Linked DNA regions of Homo sapiens. The protein of the gene in region 1 purifies or fractionates together with the protein of each later gene. This does not show direct contact. Each region holds a gene or a part of one and is shown in the gene's direction. Other genes may lie near its edges.

Region 1 (7,444 bases):
GACATTTTGGCTATTGCCTACAGCAAAACTAGCTCCATTGCTGTTGGATGTATTATGCTTCTTTCTTTTATGTGAAGATCTAAGAAAGCTTCATTTTATAGTTATTTTCAAAGAAAATGTGGCAATATTTAGATCATTTGTTCTCAACATTGGCCATGCTTTGGAAACACGAATCAGGCTGTGGGAGGAGGGAGGTTTTAAAAACATCCTGATGCTTGCTTCCCACCCCCAGAGTTTTTGATACAATTGATCTGGGGCACAGTCTGGACACAGAAACTTTTAAAGCCTGGTGAGTTTAATGTTGAAATTACTGGTTTCGATTAATTGACTTTTGGTTGAATCTATATAAAGGGCAGGTAAAGTAAATATTTAGTTAATATTTTTTGCAATTAGAATAAAAACAAACTATGAAATCAAAATAGAAATTAACTACATGTCAACTAAAGTGTTTTTTAAAGCATGTTTTTAAACCAAAAGATAATCTTTGCCCCATTCTTCATTCATTTTATTGGAATAATACACTCTGCCAAAGCATGTAAGTGTTAGGGTTCATGTACACACACAGATTTATCATTAAAACCTGGAAACTGCTCTCCTCCCACATAATTTCTATATTTGGTATTGAATCAAAGCTGTAGAAGGGACAGAGCTTCCACAATTTGTTCTGTCCACACCCTATGGGTTAGCTGCAAAGTATGTTAATTTTAAAAGAGATGGTGTGTCTGAATTTTTACCTTGAGGAAACCAGGGACGTTAGAAATTTGCCAAAGGTCACACAGCTCACTGATAGTGGAGTCCCACCCAACCAGAGTTCTGTCTTTGATTCAAGGCTGTTTTTATGCTACTGCCTTTGCCTGCTTTTATAGGCACTAAAGGAATATAAGCTGGGTTGAAATGAGTGAAGACAGTTACAACAGAAGCAAAAAAAAAAAAAAAATCCTTTAAACTTTCAGACTATACACAAGATAGTGGAATTATTCAGAGGGAGAAGCTACATCAAATTACTTTCTTATGTGCAAGATAAGATTATCTTATTTGATGAATATTCTATTGTGCCTCACTCCTACCAGGATATGGTGTAGAAGGTATCAGTTGATAAAATCGACTAAAATGTTTTATAGGGCTTACTTTAAAGAAAAATAAATTATGCTTCAAGAGTCAACATTTATTCATATTGTAGACATTTGATATGTTTTCCATTGCCATCAAAAACAATAGCTAATTATAAATCCTCAGAAATTGATAAGGATTTGGGAAGCTTTGAAAGTGAGATTCAATTACCTTCAGAAAAGTGGATAGAGATCTTTTCACATCCAGGTCAACTGCATATTTGTAGCTTTTATTTCTAAGTCATAGCAGAATGATACTGGGTGGCTGCTGGAATGGCCCACATTTGAGCTTTATTTCTACATGGTGATAACATGACCAAATCCCACAATGAGTCTTTTAAGGGGCGTACTGTTTGTGAGTCCCTGTAAAAATAACACCATTAAGTTTAATCTAAACTAGCTAAAACTTCTCGATATAATGAAATCTCTGGATAAAGAAAAAAGAGCTTCTTAGAAATACTGTTATGATACAGGCATTACTTGAATTAAAATGTCACTTAACAAGTATTTGTTTCTATATAAGTTATTTAATCAAAAAAAAAGTCCACCTAAAAGTTACCTGAAAGCTTGGGGTGTTGGTTAATTGGTTCCTTAACTTGTTATTGAGGTCTCGGACCTCAGCTTTTCCTTGGAACGACAACCCTAATGCTCGTGGTTTTGCCAGCTGCATCCTACATCTCAGAGACCAAGAACACACACAGGATGCTGCTATACTGCTTTAGGACTAATGGCCCATGTGAGAATTTACATACTGATTTCTTCTCCAAAATATTTGGATCGGAATATTTTTTCCAAAATTTAATGAAATCCTATATGAAATAGAAAGATGATGGATCTAGAAAAAAAGTCCCTTAGCTTATTAAGAAGTATGAAAAGGATCCTTGGGAAAGTATTGAAGGGAACATTGGCTTTGGGAATTCCAGATTTCATTTTAGTCCTGTTTTTCCCATCACTAGATATCTCACCTTCAGTAAGCCACTGGCATTTCTGAAATCAATCTCTCATCTGAGAAATGGGATAAAAGGCCAAGTCATAGTCCTTGTAAGGATGGAAGCAACTTGTATGTTGTAATACATAGAAAAGTTATTTTTACTTTCCATTAGTAAGCTCCTTCAAGTTAGGCTCTTTTTTGTTTGTTTGTTTTCTGGACCAGAAATAATCCTAAGCTCACAGTAAAATGTGTTAATTTAATAGGTGGAACAATGCAATCTCAAAATAGTGATACATGTCTATTCTGTTTAGATAAGTACACCTGATCTATAGTATTTTTCTTTTGATTTTTAAAAAAACATTGTTATTTCAGCATCAACGTGAGCAGGTAGAGGTTGAAAACAGCCTATTACAATAAACTGAAGCAGCTGACAATAAAATTAGCATGACTTCCTCAATTAATGCAACCCATGTCACCAAAAGATCAGTTTCTACCACTTAGCCAAATCCTTTATTTATTGGTTAATTACATTTATAGCACACAAACGTCCAATTCATTCATTCGGAATCTTTTAAGTCATGACTGTCCAATGTTTACTTCAAGTATTAGCTTTATTTTGACTGATAGATCACTCCCTTACCTCTAAGAATTTATTTATTTAGTTGCATTTTATCCAATATTTATTTTTAGTGTTATACACACACAAAAATAATTGAAGGCAATTACAATAGGCTTATTGCATTATTAGTGATGCTAGAAAAATTAAGTTATTGCTCAAGTTTTACCTGGCTCATTGAGCTTGTCCCCTGTATTTTACTACATTTTTTTTCTCTAAATGCCAATGTTAGAGCAGAATGCATTTTAAAAGTGAGTGGGAAAGGCCTTCAATAACCGTGTTTTCAAAGCTACTCCAGGCAGCCAAATACTTAGAGCTACTGTCCATAGCTCCTGAGAGCCACAGTGGGAATAACTGAGAATTTATTTTTAAAAATCTTATTATTCCCCTAAGGGATGGTCTCTTGAATTATCAGATTTTGGTATAACGACATGCAAACTCTGATCTCAATACATTAAGAATTTTTATTTGTGTCCCAACTCAAAAATGAAAGCTGGCAGGGCTAATTTTCCTGCTGTCAATGAACTCTTGGGGATGTTTAAGCTCTAGAGTGAACAGGAGACTTTTGGTCTTCGGGTATTGAGGAAGAGTGGACTCAGTGTTGGACTAACGTGGCTGTGGTTCTCTGGTTGTTTCCTTTCACAGCAACACCCCTGAGCCCACTTAAGCCCCCACGGATGGACACTGCTCCGGTGGTCGCATCTCCCTATCAAAGAAGAGATTCAGACAGATACTGTGGGCTCTGTGCAGCCTGGTTTAATAACCCTCTGATGGCCCAGCAACATTATGATGGCAAGAAACACAAAAAGAATGCGGCAAGAGTTGCTTTGTTAGAACAACTGGGGACAACCCTGGATATGGGGGAACTGAGAGGTAAGGGCAGCTCTTCTCACTTCTGCCACAAAACTGGGCTTTCAGAGAAAAGATGCGGCTTTCACAAATCGGAATGATTCTTCTTCTTGCTTTAATTATTAAGGAAAAAGTGAGGCTCACCCAAAAGAAATGGACAAGAAAGGAAATGAGCAGAAGGCTTGCTTTAGTTTAATTTTTATAATCTCCTTTGTTTCAAAGTGTTTATTTTCATATTTTTATTGACTGCTTTTCAGACCAAAGGCACATTCATGAACCAGATTGTTTTCCTTCTGCTTTATCTTTAACTGCCTTCTTTACCAAATGCTTTTGTAGAGTAGCAGTGTTTAAAAAAGAAAAAAAAGATGCTGAATGGGAGGCTGAGGTGGGCAGATTGCCTGAGGTCAGGAGTTCAACACCGGCCTGGCCAATATGGTGAAACCCCGTCTGTATTAAAATACAAAAATTAACCAGGTGTGGCAGTGCGCACCTATAATCCCAGCTACTTGGGAGGCTGAGGCAGGAGAATCGCTTGAACCCAGGAGGCAGAAATTGCAGTGAGCCGAGATTTTGCCATTGCACTCCAGCCTGGGCAACAGAGTGAGACTCTGTCTCAAAAATTTAAAAAAAAAAAAAAAAAAAAAAAAGATGATAAAAAGGCCAAATAGTATTATCTTACCTTAAACTTTTGTGCTTTTATAAATTTAGCCAAAACAAAGCAACAAATTGACTCAATTTAATGACTTGAAGCAAGCCCAAGCCCCTTCAATAAAATCTCCGGGAAATCACGGCAAGACAGTGCTGTGTGGCACTATGTAGTCAACACCTGTCTCCTCCGCACCATGCCCCTGCCCCAGACAGGGTTTTCTTGACAGCTAGAAACCATGTATCATTTGAAGTTCCTGTGAGGTTTCACAGAAGCTGCTGAATTTGGAAAACATAGCGTGAGGATTACTTCTGTGGATTCCTTAGGAAGCCATCAACCAATTTGTGGGACTAAATAGAATATTTTATCACCAGCAACCATTTAAGCATTTTTGATCACCTACATACTTTTGATCAGCTTGATGTTGGCAGCATAGAAGTACAGCAAAATTGCATATTATATTTTCTGAGAAAATGCATTTTTCTCAGAAAAATAAAAATAATTCTGCAAGGGGTGCTATTGATACTATACTTCAGATTTGGTGTAAGTTTGATGAGCTTTTGTGGGCAGGTCATTCATAATGGCTGCAAGCTATAGATAACAACATTTGCAAATCAATTTGGAGACGGCAACCTCAGTTTAAACAGGGTTCTGCATACAGAGCCTACAATTCTAATTACCGTAATCTGGCTGTGAACCTGTAAGGGGGATAATTATAACAGAAAATGACTTGGAACATTTCTAGACAAAATAAGTAATATAAAAGGTCATGCTACAATGAGTTGAGAGGAGGGACAGGTCACTTCTTAATATGTTGGTTGCAGAAGATCTCACCAAGGGAATATACTTGATTTGGAACTAGAAAAGTGGGTGGCATTTTAGAAGGTGAGAAGGCATTCCATGTGAGCAGAATCACATACGCATGGGCAAAGGTCAGGAAACAAGCTAGAGACAGCTAAGAAGTCATCATGGAAGAATCTTATACTGCAGCATAGATTTAAAGTTGGAGATCCATGGCTAAGTATATAGAGCTTGATTCGAGATTGATTTTTTCCAAAAGACCTGATTAAAAACAACAAAAAAAGAGCAAACATTAATAACACTTTATTTATGTGTATGTGTTCTAGCTACAGAAAAGCAACTTGGTGCTTCCTATTTCAGTATGTTGGATAAGCTCATTGCAGAAGCTTTTGAGTCAATGGTACTACTGCTTTTTGATGGAGGATTTCATATGTTTTCAGTCTATGTCTTGTTAAAGAAAATAGGCAGGATCTCTCCATAGCTGAAGGCCTAACTGCAATGCCTGTGTTACTGGCAGATAACAAGTTGTCTCAGTGACTCCTTCCCAGCTGGGCAGTGAAGGAGAAAAATAGGACTTTATGTTTGGTGCCAGTTATTATGACTTGAAGAAAAATTATTCCTACAGCACATTCTTCCTGTCTATTTTGAATTATCAGTGCTGTATCTTTTATGTACAACTACATCTTAATGACTTTGGTGTCTGAATTCTGTAACATTTGAGCAGCTTGTCTTTCATACAGAAGACAAAAAGGCTGCTTTGACTCGATAACTCAATGTGACTGTGACTCAGTAGCCCATGGAATGCGATTAGCATTGAGCACAATGTCCTTGAAACCAAACTTTCCACACGCTCCAGGTGATATCCTGATAGATATTTATTCAAGCATTAAATATTGCAAAAGCTTAAGAATAAAGCAACTATGGTAACCCAGCACTTTGAAACACACACACACAGGCCACACACACACCCCTCTATTCCTGGAATGCTTCTAATGTATGATCAATCAATTAATAAAGGCAAAAATGCTAATCCATAAATATAGGCATATCCATGACTTTAATAAAATGGTATCAGGCAGCTGAAGCACGATATAGCAATATAATAGGATGGTAGGCTTTTTCTCTTTCTCTCATAGCACTTCTCACATTTTTAAACACTGTCTTGTTTACTTACTTTTTTTTGTATTTTCTTTCTCTCTACTTACTTTATAGATTATTAGCATCTTAAAAGCAGGCATTTATGTCTGGTTTGCTCATTTATATGTTCAAAACACCTAGAGTAGTGGCAGACACATAATAGTTACTCAATAGTTTCTGAATGAATGAATGAATGAACAGAGAATGCCCTAAAACAAAATCACCTGAAATCTTACATTCTTAACATGGCAATCATTTTCATTTCTAGAAGGATTCTGATTTAATATTTTTTATAAGAAACTATTTCTAATTTTGTTTTAATTTTTTAAAATGATGCATATTATATGTATAGTGAAATGCAGAGATATTACATGTTACAGTTCTATGAGTTTTGACAGTGCAAACACCTGTGTAACCCACAGCCCTATTAAGATACGTAACTTTTCCATCATGGGAAAATTCCCATGTCAACTCCAACCCTCCATTCCAGAGAACCACTTTTCTCATTTTTTCATCATAGATTAGTTTTGCTTGTTCTAAAACTCCATATAAGTGGAATCATAAAATATGTATTTCTTGTGTGTCTGGCTTATTGTGGATCACACATTGTTTATGAAATTTATCCATTTATAGCATATAAAGCAAAGTAGTACCTTTTTTATTACTGAGTAGTATTCTATACACAAAAATACCACAGTTTGTCTATCCACTCTATTCATTGATGAACTTTGGATTATTTTGGTGCTATTTTAGATAAAGCTTTCATGAACATTACGGCACAAGACTTTTTTTTGGTCAACATATGTTTTACTTCTCTTGGTAAATAGGCATAGGATTGCTGGGTCATAAGTTGCATGTATTTTTAACTATAGAAGAAACTGCCAAAATCTAAAATAGTTGCGTTACTTTGCACTTCAAAAAGCCAACATATAAAAATTCCATAGCCTCACCAACATCTGCTCATGTCAGTCTTTTAAATTTTAGCCATTTTAGTGCATATAGGAGGGTATTTCATGATGCCTTTAATTCATATTTCCATATTGACTAATGATGTCAAGTACTTTTTTTTTTTTTTTTGAGATGGAGTCTTGCTCTGTTGCCAGGCTGGAGTGCAGTGGCATGATCTCAGCTCACTGCAACCTCTGCCTCCCAGGTTCAAGAGATTCTCCTGCCTCAGCCTCCCAAGTAGCTGAGACTACAGGTGCAGTGCCACCACGCCCAGCTAATTTTCGTATTTTTAGTAGAGACGGGGTTTCACCATGTTGGTCAGGATGGTCTTGATCTCTTGACCTCATGATCTGCCCACCTTGGCCTCCCAAAGTGCTGGGATTACAGGTGTGAGCCACCACACCCTG
Region 2 (3,772 bases), on another chromosome or scaffold:
GCATGTGGATGGCATCAGGAGCTCTGCTGGAACCAGGGCCGGAGCCCTTGTTTCTTGCTGTCCTTGCAATTGGAGGTCAGAGCAGGAGAGGTGATTTGCCCTGGACCACAAAGAATGGCTGGGGTTGGTTTAATTGGAGAGGATCTTTAATTGCTGGGGATGGGAGCTAAGTGATCGTGTATGTAATTTGGAGCTGGACTCAGGGGCATTGCAACAGCAGGACTGCAGAAAGCAGATATGGGGAGAAAAAAGAAGGTTTCTGTTCTAGACTCAGTCCTTCCCCTCCCTACTACATACTTTTCCACCCTCTCAGAGCCTGGGGCCCTGAAGAGAAGGCTCATCAGCACTTTGAGGCCCCTGGCAGAGCAAGGTTTTGGTGTCCAGCAGGCACCCAGCACTGGGAGAGTGGAGACAGGCGCTGGGCTGCAGAGAAGCTGAGCTGGGAATCAATTTCCCTGGGGGCTGGCCCCAGCTGTCTCATTGACTTGCTGTGTGACTTTGCATGAGGAAAAATGATTCCTTTGTGCCTCAGTTTTCCCATCCATAATTAGGATGATTTTGCAGCTCTTCCACCTGCTGTATGTGCTGTGACCTCAAGCCAGGGAGGGGATGGGAGGGTGAAGGTAGCATTTTGCCCTGATGCCCACCTACCACTCCAGGCTTTTAACCAGACAATGCCATTCATTGACCTGCAACCCATATTATTGACCCAATCTTCCTCAAAGAAAGGCTTCAGCCATTTCCAAATCTGTTCACTTTGCCCTATGAATTGCTTGGGGTCCAGGCTGGCCCCTGGGGGTCAGGAGACCTGGTCCAGGCTCTGCTTTGCCAGTAAGTAGCTGTTCTTACCCCTCCCTGGGTCTCAGTTTCTTCCTTTGTTTAATAGGTGGTTTAAGCAAGGTCTGAGCATCCCTCAAGTCCTGCTGTGGACCACACAAAGGCAAGGAGCTGACCAGGAGGTGTCAGTTCCCTGAGAGACAGGGCCAAAGGCAGTGTACCCTTGAGGTGTGTGTGTGAGGGGCAAATGATGTCTCCTGTATTGGGATCTGCAGGGCATGGGAGTGGGCTCAGTCTCTGACCCAGCTCAGGGACAAATCCTCTTCCTGAGACCCCCGGGGGCTGATGGTGCTTGCGTGGGTGAGCAGCAGCTAAGCTGTGCTCTTCCACTCCATCCTGGAGGGCTGCCTCCTCAGGGCCCTGATGAAGTTATCTGGGCAGGGTGGGGCATGCTGATTTCATGAAATTACTGGGAGATACAATACATGGAGAAGGCTGGGAGAGCTGTCACTGGGCTCTCTCTCCAGAGATGCTCCCTGTACCAATGGCTGGGGGAAGAGGAACAGGACGAGAGAGGCAAAGGGCTGTGGGGAGCCTGGGACCGTGTTGGACTGGGGCAGTTCTTTACCCTCTCTGCACCCTTTCTGTAAGGGAAATTTATGCAGAGAGAGGCAAAGAAAATCCTGGAAGCCCTCACCATAAGAGAAGTGATGCCGAGAACTGGCAGCTGGGGGTGTGGGTTTTGGAGGCAGCCTGCTGGGGCTTGGATTCTGGCTCCTTGCTTACCAGCTGAGTGACCTTGGGCAAGTTGCCTAGCCTCTCTGTGCCTTGGTTTGCTCAACTATAAATTGAATATGATAATAGTAATCTATTTAATTGGGTGGTTGTAAAAATTAAATGAGTGCATCCACATACAGCCCTCGACACAGTGCTGTGAAGTTCTGTGGAGTAGAAAGTGCTATATAAATAGTAGCTGTGGTGGCGCTGGAGGAACCTCCTTGAGCTGTGGAGAGAAATTTCGACCAGTGTAATGCGGGGGCTGAGGTTCAAGCTCACCCACTAACTATGGGAATGGACTCCAATTAGGATTCCAATCTGGAGATCCTGACATTAGGGACCAGCCCCTGATCACAGGGTAGGTAAATCTTGCAGATCAGGCCAAAAAGGCCCCTAGAATTGTCGGGTCTTGGATCACTGCTGCCTCCTGAGGCAGGTTAGGGTAGGGTGGGTCTAGCTAGCAGGCTCATCTGTCGTCTGGCCTCGCTGACCACTCTTGTTTCCCCCACAGTCTCACTACCGGCCATTCTACGTCAACAAAGGCAACGGGATTGGGTCCAACGAAGCCCCATGAGCTCCTGGCGGAAGGAACGAGGCGCCACACCCCTGCTCTTCCTCCTGACCCTGCTGCTCTTGCCTTCTAAGCTACTGTGCTTGTCTGGGTGGGAGGGAGCCTGGTCCTGCACCTGCCCTCTGCAGCCCTCTGCCAGCCTCTTGGGGGCAGTTCCGGCCTCTCCGACTTCCCCACTGGCCACACTCCATTCAGACTCCTTTCCTGCCTTGTGACCTCAGATGGTCACCATCATTCCTGTGCTCAGAGGCCAACCCATCACAGGGGTGAGATAGGTTGGGGCCTGCCCTAACCCGCCAGCCTCCTCCTCTCGGGCTGGATCTGGGGGCTAGCAGTGAGTACCCGCATGGTATCAGCCTGCCTCTCCCGCCCACGCCCTGCTGTCTCCAGGCCTATAGACGTTTCTCTCCAAGGCCCTATCCCCCAATGTTGTCAGCAGATGCCTGGACAGCACAGCCACCCATCTCCCATTCACATGGCCCACCTCCTGCTTCCCAGAGGACTGGCCCTACGTGCTCTCTCTCGTCCTACCTATCAATGCCCAGCATGGCAGAACCTGCAGCCCTTGGCCACTGCAGATGGAAACCTCTCAGTGTCTTGACATCACCCTACCCAGGCGGTGGGTCTCCACCACAGCCACTTTGAGTCTGTGGTCCCTGGAGGGTGGCTTCTCCTGACTGGCAGGATGACCTTAGCCAAGATATTCCTCTGTTCCCTCTGCTGAGATAAAGAATTCCCTTAACATGATATAATCCACCCATGCAAATAGCTACTGGCCCAGCTACCATTTACCATTTGCCTACAGAATTTCATTCAGTCTACACTTTGGCATTCTCTCTGGCGATGGAGTGTGGCTGGGCTGACCGCAAAAGGTGCCTTACACACTGCCCCCACCCTCAGCCGTTGCCCCATCAGAGGCTGCCTCCTCCTTCTGATTACCCCCCATGTTGCATATCAGGGTGCTCAAGGATTGGAGAGGAGACAAAACCAGGAGCAGCACAGTGGGGACATCTCCCGTCTCAACAGCCCCAGGCCTATGGGGGCTCTGGAAGGATGGGCCAGCTTGCAGGGGTTGGGGAGGGAGACATCCAGCTTGGGCTTTCCCCTTTGGAATAAACCATTGGTCTGTCACTTCTCTTGTATTGAATGACCATTTCCCTGAGGGTCCCCAGAGGAACAGGCTGCAGTTCTTCTGAATGCACTTTTTCCCTCTGATGAAGGCACGGTCATCTTCCTGCTCTCCTCTCAGAAACGTGGCTCCTTTGAAACTCCCTTGACCTCCCTCACCCTGTCTGGGACACAGGGGGTGCAGTGCAGGAACCTGGGCCTCAGGGAGGCACGCCTTGGCTAACAATGAACACAGGGAGAATGACAGTGGGGTGTGGGCCTGGGGATATGCTCAATACCTTCTGCCATGCTCAGACCTTCTGGCCGGCCCACCCTAGAGTTCCCAGGGGGAGAAGGGCCCAGAAGTGGCTGGGAGCCAAGCACTCTGGTGCTCAGACGCAGGCTGGAGTGGAAGTCCACTGGAGGCTTCAGACCTGAGGGCCTTCTCAGTGCACAGAGGGCCTTCTGGGAAGGAGAGCTCCCCTTTGAGGCTGGCAGGAGGGTCAGGCTCCTGAAGACAGCATCATCCTGGGCTTGGGG
Region 3 (6,286 bases), on another chromosome or scaffold:
GCCTGGTGAGGGGCCTGCAGAGGCAGGGTTGCTGGAGACTGGGAGGTGGAGGGCAGAGTGTCCAGGGTGGGGCCCTGGCTACACCCCCCGGTCTTATCCCTCTCTAGGTCCAACCGGTTGGGGATAGGCCTGCCTGGGGCTTCAGGGTAGGGAGGGACAAGAGCTCAGTCCTGAGCTCCTGGGTCCTGGGATCCTGGCTCCTCACCCAGGATTGCCTGCCACTGACTCAGTGGCAGGAGGGGCCTCACTGGAAGCCAGCTTGTGGGGGCAGCTGCATGCGAGCCACACAATCACATAAGAGGAAGCACACACAGTACGCAATGCTGTGTAGTCAAGAAAGACTCACAATGTCCTACAGATACCTGTGGCCATAGTCCCAGGCACACACCATCACTCACTATCACACACGAACACAGCCAGGCTCCTGGTCACAGCTGTCCACTGTCATGCACAAGCACACACTGTCACTTTTAAGCACTTACATAGCTCACATGGTCACACATCACTATACAAAACCACACAGAGGCATACAGCCACAGACTCACACTGTCATACACAGACACACATAGACACACTTAGTCTTTGGCTTCTCAGGCTGGAGAGGAGTCCCAGAAGCCATTGTAACCACCCCGCTGCCTCTGGACAGGAGGACTTCACTCAGCCCAGACAGAGCCCACATAGGTGACATTTAATCAGCCAGGCTCTTCTATCAGAGCATTTAACAACTCTGTGTGTACCACATGCCTTCACACACACAAACACATCCACACTATCATATAAATATATAAGCAGACACGCTACGTGGTCATGTACATGAATATCCTCACAGTACACATAAGCAGCCACAAATACTCATAAGCATACAATGTACATACGTGTACATATTCATACATGCATACACATAATCATATATACATACAAGCATACATAACAGCTACATATATAACAGCTATATGTATAGCTGTTATATGCCTGTGACAATTCATGCACACACACATACACACCCACTACGAGCAGCCCTCCTTTTTATGAAAGCACTGCTGACCTCTGGGTGCCGTGGACAGAGAATATGAAGGGAAGGGCTGACACTGACTCCTCCTGAAGCCCTGCTTCTGCTCCTACCACCCCATCTTCTCTGCCCTCCCCCTAGCACTGCTGTCTGCTGTGCGGATCAACGGGGATGGACAGGAGGTCCTGTACCTGGCAGAAGGTGATAATGTGAGGCTGGGCTGCCCCTACGTCCTGGACCCTGAGGACTATGGTCCCAATGGGCTGGACATCGAGTGGATGCAGGTCAACTCAGACCCCGCCCACCACCGAGAGAACGTGGTGAGTGCTGGGCACAGGGGTCTCCTTCCTCTAGGCTTCATGATGTCTACCTGTTGGACAGCCAACATCCCAAAGGGAGAAGACTGACCTTGAACCTCCCCCAAGGCCTTTCAGGGAATGAGGCAATGGGGATGAGAGCTCTGCAATTGTGAATTAAGCTAGCCAGTCAGTCTACCTCCTCCCATCCCATTCTAAAAGGAAGATAAGTTGTAGTCTTTGCCTTCAAAAAGTTCCCAGTCTGACCATATATCTTTCCAAGTGCTTGATCTCACCTGATCTCACCAGTTCTGTAAGAGGTCAGTGGCTCAGGCATCATTATTCTCATTTTTTCAGCTGAGAAAAGAGTCTCAGAGAAGTTCAGTGAATTGCCCAAAGCAGCCAATCCACATGGCCCTTCTTGGCTCTGCCTGTTTCACCACCTGTTTTCCTCTCCTCTTCACAGTTCCTTAGTTACCAGGACAAGAGGATCAACCATGGCAGCCTTCCCCATCTGCAGCAGAGGGTCCGCTTTGCAGCCTCAGACCCAAGCCAGTACGATGCCTCCATCAACCTCATGAACCTGCAGGTATCTGATACAGCCACTTATGAGTGCCGGGTGAAGAAGACCACCATGGCCACCCGGAAGGTCATTGTCACTGTCCAAGGTATGGCCAGACTCCTCTAAGCTCCTCTCCCCCTGGCTTAAGAGCCAAGGGCAGCTTGGCCACTTTGAGCCTGGCTCTGTCTCTTGGCTGGGCCCTGGCTTACAATTGTCTGCCTCCTTGCAGCACGACCTGCAGTGCCCATGTGCTGGACAGAGGGCCACATGACATATGGCAACGATGTGGTGCTGAAGTGCTATGCCAGTGGGGGCTCCCAGCCCCTCTCCTACAAGTGGGCCAAGATCAGTGGGCACCATTACCCCTATCGAGCTGGGTCTTACACCTCCCAGCACAGCTACCACTCAGAGCTGTCCTACCAGGAGTCCTTCCACAGCTCCATAAACCAAGGTGAGAGGGCCCTGGATGAGGGCAGTCGGGGGTGAGTGGAAGATCAGGGACTCTGGGACCTGTTGGGGTTTCCTTGGGTTATCAGTGCCATCAAATCAAACCTGGAATCCCTGTGGGAGACCCTCCCTCTGGGCCTGCCCCAGCAGCTGCTATTTTTTTTTTTTTTTTTGAGACAGAGTTTCGCTCTTGTTGCCCAAGCTGGAGGGCAATGGCATGATCTCGGCTCACTGCAACCTCTGCCTCCCGGGTTCAAGCGATTCTCCTGCCTCTGCCTCCCGAGTAGCTGGGATTACAGGCATGCACCACCGCACCTGGCTAATTTTTTGTATTTTTAGTAGAAACGGGGTTTTACCATGTTAGCCAGGCTGGTCTCAAACTCCTGACCTCAGGCGATCCGCCCGCCTTGGCCTCCCAAAGCGCTAGGATTACAGGCGTGAGCCACCGTGCCTGGCCCAGCAGCTGCTATTGAGAGCAGATGATAAGGCAAATGTGGAGAGTCAGTCAAAAGTACTATGGCGAATTTGGAGGGAGCCTGGTCTCAGACAGAGCTGGGCTTGAATCCTGGCTGGGACACTGACTGGCTCCAAGTTTAAGGCAAGTGGCTTACCCTCCCTGTGCCTTAATTTCTTCATATATGGAAAGGGAATACTAACATATACCTTTCATGGGCATGCAAGGATTAAATGGGGGAGGTGTGTAAAGCTCCTAGTACATAGAGAAGCTGAAAATATTCAGTCAAACAAAGAATAATAGAGCTAGGAGGGACCTTAGAGTTCCTCTTCCCCTGGCTTCTCCTGTCCTCACTGTACAAAGGAGGAGACCAAGGCTCAGAGAGCGTACATATTTCCCTAAGGTCAGAGTGAATTAATGGTGTCCCTGTCTTGCTGCTGGGAGAGAGGTCCTTTCTTGCATCTCTTTCACAGCAGGGGGAAGGTGACTCACCTGGAGAGTGGAGTGTGTGTGTGTGTGTGTGGGTGTGGGTGTACACACATGCATAAGCCTTCCCTTCTTCTAGAGTGGGTGTCCCATCCCCCACCCCACAGGGACTGAGGTTGGGGTGGGAGCTCTCAGAGACCAGGCCTCTCTCCACTTCACTTTCAGGCCTGAACAATGGGGACCTGGTGTTGAAGGATATCTCCAGAGCAGATGATGGGCTGTATCAGTGCACAGTGGCCAACAACGTGGGCTACAGTGTTTGTGTGGTGGAGGTGAAGGTCTCAGGTAGGTGCAGCAGTCTTGAGGGCTGGGTGGTTGGGAGGGTTGAACTGGAGGAGGCTGGGCTCTGGTTTGGAGCCTCAGCTGCTTCTGCCTTTCCACTGCCATCCATTTGCCAGTGGGGGCTCCCAGCCCCTTTCCTACAAGTGGGCCAAGATCAGTGGGTACGATCTTGACCCTATTGAGCTGGGTCAAGCTCGCCCAGCACAGCTTCCACTCTGAGCTCTAGAGCCCAGAGCAGCTGGAAGCCCTGGGAGAAGCATGCTGACACGAGGGGTTAACTTGCATCTCCCCATATCTTCCCCACTGGGTGTTCCAGGGCTAAGAGACCCCCTGGGTCCCTCTCCCTCTTTCCCATTAACCCCTGACCTGGCACCTCCTGGTGCTGTTCCCTCAGGCACCTGCCAGGCTGTGAGAAAGCCTGACCTGCCTCCACTTCTCTCCACAGACTCCCGGCGTATAGGCGTGATCATCGGCATCGTCCTGGGCTCTCTGCTCGCGCTGGGCTGCCTGGCCGTAGGCATCTGGGGGCTCGTCTGCTGCTGCTGCGGGGGCTCCGGGGCTGGCGGCGCCCGCGGTGCCTTCGGCTACGGCAACGGCGGCGGGGTCGGCGGAGGGGCCTGCGGCGACTTGGCTAGTGAGATCAGGTAAAACCTGATGCATGCTGCATGCTGCTGTGCGGCAGGGAACCGGCGCCCTGCCCACCTCACTCCTGCCTGCCACCGGCCGGCTGGGCCCCCCACCCCAACCCTGCCCGCCATCGCCACGGAGTGCTGGGACTGCGGCATGTCGACCTGCCACCCAACTCATGGCTTTCCCCTCCCCCTGCCACCCCAGTCTTCACCTCTGCTCCCTGCCTTCCATTTCCCTCCTGCCTACGCACCTGTCTGTCTTGTCTAGACTGTAAGCTCCTGGAGGGCAGGGCCTATGTTTTTTCACGTTTCCCCTGTACTGCGCCGGTAAGAACTCTGACATTATTATTTAAGAAGAGCTAATAATAAGAATAGTGCTAATAACTTATATTAGAAGCAAACTAGAAATAAAAATAGAACAAGTCTAGTAGTGCTAATGATTGCAATGCCTCGGGGATGGAGGGAAAGATGGAGAAGACTGAGGGGCAGGAGGTGAGAAAGAGAGAGATTGCTCGAGCAAGGTCAGGATTAGCTAAGGAAAGAAGAAGAGGAAAAGCACCTTCTTCTGGGCCTGCGAAACATCAGAAAGGGATTGCAGGGGCCTGGAGGGGGCTGCCTGCAGGGCTCTCCAGATACGCGTGGACAAGCCCTGTCTGGAGGATGGGGATGCTGGCTCCGGGACCGCTGCAGGGTCGCCGACCCAGGAAGGGTCACAAAGGACAGTAGGTCGAGGCCGAGGGAGAGAGACGAGGGCAGGTGGAGGGAGGCGCGGGAGACAAGAGGTTGCCAAGAGCCCCCGGCTCTGCCCAGGCCGTGCCCACGCCCCGCTGCGGAGCAGCCCGCTCACCCGCCCGCCTGTTGTTTTCCACAGAGAGGACGCCGTGGCGCCCGGGTGCAAGGCCAGCGGGCGCGGCAGCCGCGTCACCCACCTCCTGGGGTACCCGACGCAGAACGTCAGCCGCTCCCTGCGCCGCAAGTACGCGCCTCCCCCCTGCGGCGGCCCCGAGGACGTGGCCCTGGCGCCCTGCACCGCCGCCGCCGCCTGCGAAGCGGGCCCCTCCCCGGTCTACGTCAAGGTCAAGAGCGCGGAGCCGGCTGACTGCGCCGAGGGGCCGGTGCAGTGCAAGAACGGCCTCTTGGTGTGAGCGCGCGCGCCGGGCCGGGCTGCGCCCCAGCCAGGAGGAGGGCGCGGGGCTCTCTGTCTGCAGCTGGGGACACGTCGGGGCTGGGGACGACCTCGCTCGCCCCAGGCTGCCAGGCGGCTGGGGGTGAAGGCATTTCCCTAAGGAAATGCGTAGGGAGGCAGAGCCTCCTCCCCAAAAGTGGGAAGGGGCGGGCGAGGGCGGAGGAAGGCGATCCTGAGCCTTCTCCGCACCCCCGGGACCGAAGGCTTGGGGGAGAGGGAGGGAGGAGGAGGCTGAGTGTCCTAGAGCGGCTGAGGCCGGAGGCCTGGTGTCCCCAGCCTAAGCAGAGGGCCCCGGGGGCCGGGTGGGTGGGGGTCTGTCTGGACGAATTGTTCTGTGTGTGAGGTCTGAGCTCTGAGGCAGCAGTGTTAGCACAATAAAGAAACATTGAGACGTGAGTCCGAAGTGGCTGTCCGCGTTCCACGGAGGTTGGGCACGGGGTGGCGAACCCTGCCCAGGGCCGGGGAGGGTTGCTTCTGTCGCTCGCCTCGACCACGCCCCCTCTCCTCCCTCCTGCTTAGATCCCTGGCAGTCAGAGCTGGAAGGGGCCATCCAGGGCAACTCCTCTGAACAACATACAAAGTGCAGATAAAAGGAAAACAAAGACAAAAAGAATTAGCTCAGAATATCTACGACCGTAAAATAAACTGAGGAACCGACAAAGTGCAATACACTTGCCATTTCTAAATATTCAAAGTTTTCACATGTCAAGATTTTCTATTGAGAATAATGTGCTCTGAAGGTCTAGGGAGTCTTTGTATGTTGCTGAAAGCTAAAAGGAAACCAGTCCTTGGAGCACAGAAGGCACAGGCATCCGGTGAGACAGAAACAAGGACATGTGAAAATAAGACTACAACCTCTTATATTAAAAAACTAAGTGCCACAGTTCTAGGGTGCTGGGTGAAGTGCAGGAAGGAGGGGGAATAATATTTATATA
Region 4 (7,444 bases), on another chromosome or scaffold:
CATCCTGGGTGTATGTGAAGATGCTGTGACTGGGACATAAGTGGAGTTCAGTGTGTGTACTCTGTGTTGTGCCATTTCCCCAGGAGCAGGAAGGAGCCATCGTGGATGATGTAATCATGCCCCTCTCTCAGCCTCCTGGAGGGTGAATAGGCTGCCTTTCTGAGGACAGTCTGTTGTTTTGGATATTCACACTTGGGCAAATGTCTGATATTTAAAGGACCAGGAGAGCCAGGTGCTCAGAATTCCACCATGAATGGAAAGAACCTGAAATAGAAATCCAGAGACCTAACTTCTAATGCTTGCTCTGCCCAACTTGCTGTGTAATCTTGAACATGTCATATAATCTCTCTGAATATCACTTTCCTTAATTTGTGTAAGAAGGGAGTTGAAATGTAATCCCTAGAGTCACTTGAGAAGTGTAATGCCAAAGCATTAGAAATAATTTTGAAACTGAATGAAAAATATCTTTCCTGACTTGCCAGTTCTAGAAAGATTTTTGCAATGGTGAAAGAAAGGAGAGAGATGATTTGCAAATGTTCAGTCCTAGAAATTAGAGTTGGAGAAGACCTGGGACTGATCGTGGGCATATGTGACAACTTTTGAAGTAGTCTTTATTTTTCTTTCTCCATTTTTTCCCCTGTCCTTTAAGAATTATCTCCAATTCCTCACTTCATACATGAAGCTTTCCCCCATGACCCTGGCTTGTACTGATCTGTTTCCTTCCTAACCACTCATGGAGCTTGGGGTCTTTATCATGAACTTGGACACTGCATTTTCTTCCCTCTGCATTGCCCTCTAATTGCTTGATGTACATTAGTCATGTCTGCAACTGCAGTAAAACACCCTGATGATAGATAAGAAGTTTTGGCGTATATTCAATAATCCCCCTTCCCTGCACGGAACTTTGTCATTGACAATATCCTATGGAGGATCCAGTACAGGGCAGGCATTCAAAATCATTGAAGTAAAAGCTAATCACCTTATCAACTGAGTTGTTCTGGTTGTTTTATCTTTGAATAAGGGGAATGGGCAAAAATCTGGGGAACAAGATGGTGGGTGCCAAAGTTTCAGTAATGTGAAAACATTTGGAAACCAAAGTTAGGCACATCCTTATGCACAAGGACGAGATCGAAAATGAATTGAAATCATTTTGCTGAGACTCTATAGCCCTCAGATGGTGCAAATTAACTTTTATGCTTGGTACCTATGCTTGATTATAGGGTTCAAAAATATAATTGAGTCTATAATCACTAATGTTTCCTAGAAAGTATAGGATTTAGGAGTTAGATTCTATTTAGAAATACTTTCTCCAGATAAATATACTTCTCCTCCTCCTTGGAGTAAATGGGGACACTGGGCTCCTTTGAGTTGCCTGGGGATGGTGTCAGTATTTTGATCTATTTATACCAGTCCTGCTCAGGCTCATAAAGTCCTTAATTAAGGTGTGTGTTTGGTGGTAAAGCCTGATCCTTAATGGAAGTAGGGTGGGGTCATCTTATTTAAAGCCACAGTTCTCACCATAGACCTCATTAGGCCATCAACACACATTCAGCCTTTTTCTTCCCAGTGAAATGCAGGGTTTTCATGGACGCTAACTCATGGGTGGAACTGCGCTTGAACATAAGTGAGGCTAGCCACTGCTCAAACCCCATTTTTGTAGAGTCTGTTAGTTGACCCAGCCACATCACTGCATCAGCCCAGTGTATGGCAAGGGGCTTTGAGTATTCTAAGAAGCAGGCCCTAGGATAGGTGTGAGAGAGAACTCACACATCTATCTGAAAGAAGGACCAACTGAGGGGAAGCAGGGAGGAGACAGAGGTTTTTGTGAGCTTTGAAATAAAGAAAAGAATATCATCTGGTAAGTGCATGGTCTAAACAAATGGTAACTTTCAAATCTCAACTTCTGTCTTATCAGCACCAAAAATATTTTGTTTGGACTGATGCCATATGAATCTCTGGGAACTGCTGTTCTACCCTATATCAGTAAGTGATTGTTTCTGGCTGCCACTAGAGACTGGAGTATAATGTCTTTAACAAATTAGGATTTTGTATTCATTTGTAGAAGAATCCAGAAGTGGGCAGTCCAAGGCTGGTGGGATAGATGGTATAACAAGATATCAGGGGCTTTCTGTATTTCTGATCCACCATCCTTAGCCTATGTGCTTTAAACCCTTTGTGGTTTCCCTCCTCAAGCACATTCATGGTCACAAGATTGCTGTTGGATCTCCAGCCATCGTGTCTACATTCCAGGAAGAAAGAGAGAAAGGCAAAAGGTAGAAGCAGAACAATTTTTGCTGCATCAGCCTTTCAAAGGGTTCTCATTGAAACCCTACCCAACCAATTTTACTTAAATCTCATTGGATACTCATAGCCACAAAGAGGACTTGAAAAAATATAACGTTTCAGCTGTGTACTTTTCTGCCTGAATAAAGATAGAATTTACCTCTGACACTAAGAAAGAAGGGGAGCATGAATATTGCAAGGCAGCTGGCAGTCCCTGCTCCCCTCCCCTACCTCAGTTCTCTCCTGTTTTCCATGATTCACAGGCATCCTCTTAGTCCCCATCTTGCTTTTCCCACCTCCATATGATGGACCCCCAAGGCCTGGTTAGCAGGATCTGAAAGATAACTCATTGACAGTATAATAAGTTAGCTAAGTGTCACTGAGTATTTACTATGCTCCAGGCATTGCTTTAAAAGGTTAGCACACCATGAAGTGGGGTGACCAATCTTCTGTCTCTGGGAGGGAGATCAGGTGGCATCGGGAGGATTTCTCCAGCCAAGTGTAGCCCAGCCTTGGTCTTAGGGAGATGCCAAGGCAGTCCAGTTTGCTGGTAAAGTATGGGGCTCTGGCATCAACTGTCACATTTAGAATTCTTGCCCCACTTTATGGGCAAGTAATTCAATCTCTCTTTGCCTCAGTTTTCTCATCAGTAAAATAGGGATAGTGACAGTACTTGCTTTGAGGGTGTATCAGTTTTCTGTGGCTGCTGTAACAAGTTACAAACTAGGTGGCTTCAAACAACAGCAATTTATTCTCCCCCAGTTTTGGAGGCCAGATGTCTGAACTGCATGTGTTGTCAGGGCCACAATGCCTCTGGAGGTTCTAAGGGAGGGGCCATTCCTTGACTCTTCCAGGTTCTGGTATCTGCCAGCATTCCTTGGCTGTGGCTGCATCACTCTGATCTCTGCCTCCATTTTCATATCGTCGTCTTCTCTCTGTGTGTCTAGCCTATCTTTGCCTCTTACTTATAAGGATGCTTTTGATGGTGTTTAGGGCCCACCCAGCTAATCCAGGATGATCTCCCCATCTCAAGATCCTTAACTTAATCACATCTGCAAAGACCCATTTTTCCAATAAGTTTCTGTGGATGAGGACTGCGGAGTTATCTTTGGGACTTAGGATCTGCACATACTCAGACACAGTGCCTGCCACTTGAGAGCACTTGATCAGCTCTCGTGGTAGCTCTGCCGTCTCACGGGGTTCTTTGGAGAGCAGGAGCCCTGGGGGAAAGACCTTGGCTGGTCACATTTTCCTCTTTTCTAACAAAGCTTTACGCTTTACCAGAAATAATCATAACTGTCATTGATTCAGCACCACTCTCCCAGTTGCTGTGTGTGTGGCTCTACACCTCTTCTCATTGAATCCTTATGATAGCTCTACCATGGTCACTGCTTTACAGCAGAGGAAACTGGTTCAGAGAGGTTAAGTCTCTTCCCCATTTCACAACCAGCAAGTGAGAGAGTTGGGATTCAAGCTCATTTTCATTCCCCCTCATCATGCCATTTGTTTTGAACACACCTTGTATATGAAGGGCTTCTGTGGAAATGAAGAGTGAAAAGGAAGGACCCAAGACATAGGTGGTGCCAGGGACCCAGAGTGAAAGAATGTATATAGAAGCACATCCAGATGGTATTAAAAATTATTAATCTAATAGGGAGGGTGCAGCTTCACCAAACTGAATGTGCAATCTCCGTCTCCACCCTTCCTTTTTCCAAGTGACATTTGTCTCAATCTCATCTTTTTTTCTCCTTGGTGAAGAACGTTCCTTCTCAAGCTCAAACAATATTTCTTGTCCTTATTGTGACTCTTATGATCTCACATGTTGGATCTGACCACACTCTCTGCTAACATTATTTTGCAGTTTATCTTCATCTTATATTTCCCTGCCCTCTACACAGACATGTGGGCTCTGGACAGTAGAGTTGGCAGTTAACATTGTAAAACTGTGTTTACTGTCAAATGCATGTTTTGCTTCCCAACTAGATGGTAAAACTCTTGCATGCAGGGACTGAGATTAATACATCTTGGCCCCAGTTTCTAGTTTTATGTCCCAGACATAGTAGATGATCAGCAATTGCTCCAAGGAAGCTATCAGAAAACATCCCTCTAAAAGATGCAGAGGTCATGGGATTGCTGGGTGGTTTATATCCCTGCAAGCTACGAACTCCTGAGAATCTAACCTGGAAGTCCAACTCTGTACTGTGTAGGGGATTCCCAAGGGCAGGTTTGTTCTGATAATGATTAATCTCCTCTGCTTTTGGAAGATATCTCCATCCACAGGATTGGCCCCAGGCACTGGCAATGTAATGTTCCAAGTCCCCATCTTGTCTTTAAGGCAGTTGTTAATGTTAACCTTCCTGGCCCCACTGGATTCTTTTGCAGCAGGAAGTAGACACCTCCTTAGCTTGAGTCAAGATGTTAGAATGCAGATTGAAAATGTTCTTGAGGAATAGTGATTGCTCAGCCCCTCGCCATGGCTACGTGATAAACAACAGATGGCTCACCAATGCAACATTCTAACAAATATACTCCATTTAAATTGGAGGTTGCTTCATGGGGATGGCTCCCTTGAAGTTACTTCCTTACTTTGTTTCTTGGGCAAATTTGCATTTTATAGAACTCAAAGGAGCTGGAGTTTCTGTTCTACTATTACAAATGCATAATATGTTCTCAATGGGTGGTTTGCTGTGTAGACACTAAAACAAACTACTTTCTCTTATTTCTATCCCTTCCCACTTCTTTTTTTACTTTCAAGCTTTTTTTCCTATTAGTTAAAAAAGTATAGGATCTCACTGTATTGCCCAGGCTAGTCTTAAACTCCTAGCCTCAAGTGATCCTCCCACCTTGGCCTCCCAAAATGCTGGGATTAGGCATGAGCCACCACACCCAGCCTCAACAAATTTTTATCAAATAGTTACTATAGTTTTTGTTTTGTGTGAAGTATCTTCCTAGGGCACCTTCATGGGTCAACCCTGTCCTACTCTTGATGTGGAGTCAGTGCAGGGGAAGAAGTCCTGGGACAAGGAGGAAGCTATGGGTTCTCTTCACTGTCTGAGCAGGAGGCTCCTCCTGCAGCAGAGGAAGAGAGGGTCTTGCAATAATAATTAAATGCCCCCACCCAGAAGTGACACGTGGCATTTCCACTCACAGCCAATTTGCCAGAACACTATGGCCCATCTAACTTGCAAAAGCAGAATCACTGTGGTCTTCTTTGGTTAGGAGGAAAGAAAAATTAGAATACGCAAGCCCTAAAAAGCTCTACTACAGGAATCATTTGGTGATCTTAGGAAAAAATACAGATACCATGGTCTTGCCAGTAGAAAGTCTGATTCCATTGCCCTGAAGTGGGGCCTGAGAATAAAAATTTGGCAAATGTTCCAAATGATTCTGATGCAAGTGGTACATGGGTGGACATTTGGGAACCACTGCTTTAGAAAACCCAATCCCCCCTTGGGGTGACTATTGGCTGTATAGGTGATAAGACTGATATGTGTCCAGGAATATGAAAAACAGTCAATGTATAACTCAGTGCCAAAATATGAAGCATACCATAAGTGCTCCAGTCCCTACAGGGACTCAGCAAACACTTCACTGCCCCTCCTGATACTTATTTTGCCTCTTATTTAGTGCCTTTGCCAGACAACTCATGGTAAGACCTGGTCTTGTGGAGGTGATGGAGAAAGGTCTTGGGCAGAGGTGGGGTCAGGACCTCTTAGCAGATTAAAAGCAGGAGTACATATGTGAAGATGTGAGCATGTGTGCTCCACATGCATCTGCATGTGTGTATACTTTTGTGTCTTCATGTGTGCAGTGGGAGAACAGGGTAGAGAAGTAGAGTCCAATGTCCATCCTTCCCTATAGGGCCTGTTGGAATGATAAGGTCCTATGAATAATAGTTTTGTATTATAGTTTTTACCCATCAGGCTGAACCCAGAGAGCATACCAGGGATTCTGAATCTAATCCTTGCTGTGCCACCTTACTGGGTGACCCATTGTCAGCTATAAAACTGGGCAACTCTGAGGCTTATTAGCAAGCTTGGGGATGACTCAGTTCTTCCTCTGCCTCTTCCTCTTCCTTCTCCTTTTGCACAGCCTGTTCAATCAGGAGTTGTATTCAGCTACTCTTTAACAGAATCCTGAAAAACAGAAGTGGTTTAAATCGATTAAAGATTTATTATTATTGCTTACATAAAAGAGAGCCAGAGGTTGGCAATCATCTGGGTCCCAGGTTCCTTTTGGCTCTCACTTGACCATTCCTAGGGTGTGACCCTCTTCCTCGTTATCTCAAGATGGCTGCTGGAGCTCCAGTCATCATGTCTACATTTCAGGCATGAATAAAGGGAAGAGAAGAGGAGAAAAATGGTGTCTTCCAGCTACACCTGGAGAAGTATCATTGAGTGACTTCTGCTTACATCTGATTGGCTAGAATTATGTCACATGACTATTCCAAGTTGCAAGCAAGTCTGAGAAATGTAACAGCCTCTATTATAAAGGTCCAGGGGTCAGGCATCCCAACTTTTATATCCCATTCTCTTGCACAGGGAAATGTAAGTCTTTGCCTTATAGAGTGGGAGAGGGCTAACTCTTGCTCCTGGGTAGACACATGCAGGCTTAGTGGATGCTTGGATACAAGAGACCCAGAATGTTCATACACAGTCCCAAGACTTCAGCCTCAATGCCTGAGAGGAGAGTTGGCAAGCCAGAGGTTGAGCAGGGATAGTGAGCAGATGCCATGCTCTCTGCTCCAGAGGCCAATCCCCTTGCAGAGCAGAACTCAATCCAACAACACCCTTTGTTGTGGCAGCTTTGTTTTTAGAAATAGAAGGCATGCAAGAGAATTTTGGCCCCTTGGAGGCCAAACAGCATGGGTCTTCTTTTTTTTTCAATAAAACGTGAGCTTGTTTTTAGTATTGAATTTGTAGGTACAGAGTAACCGCCCCTCCCCCTACAACAGTATAAAAGAGGATGAGTGAAAGTAAACTTCTCCTCCGTCCTCCCTCCCACCTGTGGCTTCAGTCTCATAGTCTGGAGGCTACACTTTGTTTCCCTGGTCACTTTCCAGATGTATTCTTTGCATATGGGTAAATGTGCATTGTTACACACACACACACACACACACACACACACACACACACAAATGGGATAATACTTTACATACGGC

Evidence for each region.
Region 2: the proteins of ZMAT4 (region 1) and TRIM29 purify together in Homo sapiens (affinity purification with mass spectrometry; 2 studies listed by BioGRID and IntAct, with this or other methods). This does not show direct contact.
Region 3: the proteins of ZMAT4 (region 1) and VSIG8 purify together in Homo sapiens (affinity purification with mass spectrometry; 2 studies listed by BioGRID and IntAct, with this or other methods). This does not show direct contact.
Region 4: the proteins of ZMAT4 (region 1) and HEPHL1 purify together in Homo sapiens (affinity purification with mass spectrometry; 2 studies listed by BioGRID and IntAct, with this or other methods). This does not show direct contact.

Annotation. Positions count from the first base shown.
Region 1 is NC_000008.11:40,670,789-40,678,232, reverse strand, and holds part of ZMAT4 (zinc finger matrin-type protein 4), read left to right. Parts: intron 1-3,301; coding exon 3,302-3,529; intron 3,530-7,444.
Region 2 is NC_000011.10:120,110,770-120,114,541, reverse strand, and holds the end of TRIM29 (tripartite motif-containing protein 29), read left to right. Parts: intron 1-2,065; coding exon 2,066-2,128; 3' UTR 2,129-3,256; downstream 3,257-3,772.
Region 3 is NC_000001.11:159,853,777-159,860,062, reverse strand, and holds the end of VSIG8 (V-set and immunoglobulin domain-containing protein 8 precursor), read left to right. Parts: intron 1-1,150; coding exon 1,151-1,329; intron 1,330-1,771; coding exon 1,772-1,973; intron 1,974-2,096; coding exon 2,097-2,318; intron 2,319-3,419; coding exon 3,420-3,539; intron 3,540-3,902; exon of another isoform or gene 3,903-3,981; coding exon 3,982-4,180; exon of another isoform or gene 4,181-5,036; coding exon 5,037-5,310; 3' UTR 5,311-5,747; downstream 5,748-6,286.
Region 4 is NC_000011.10:94,023,952-94,031,395, forward strand, and holds part of HEPHL1 (ferroxidase HEPHL1 precursor), read left to right. Parts: intron 1-7,444. UniProt on the Homo sapiens protein: Is a copper-binding glycoprotein with ferroxidase activity. It oxidizes Fe(2+) to Fe(3+) without releasing radical oxygen species. May be involved in the regulation of intracellular iron content.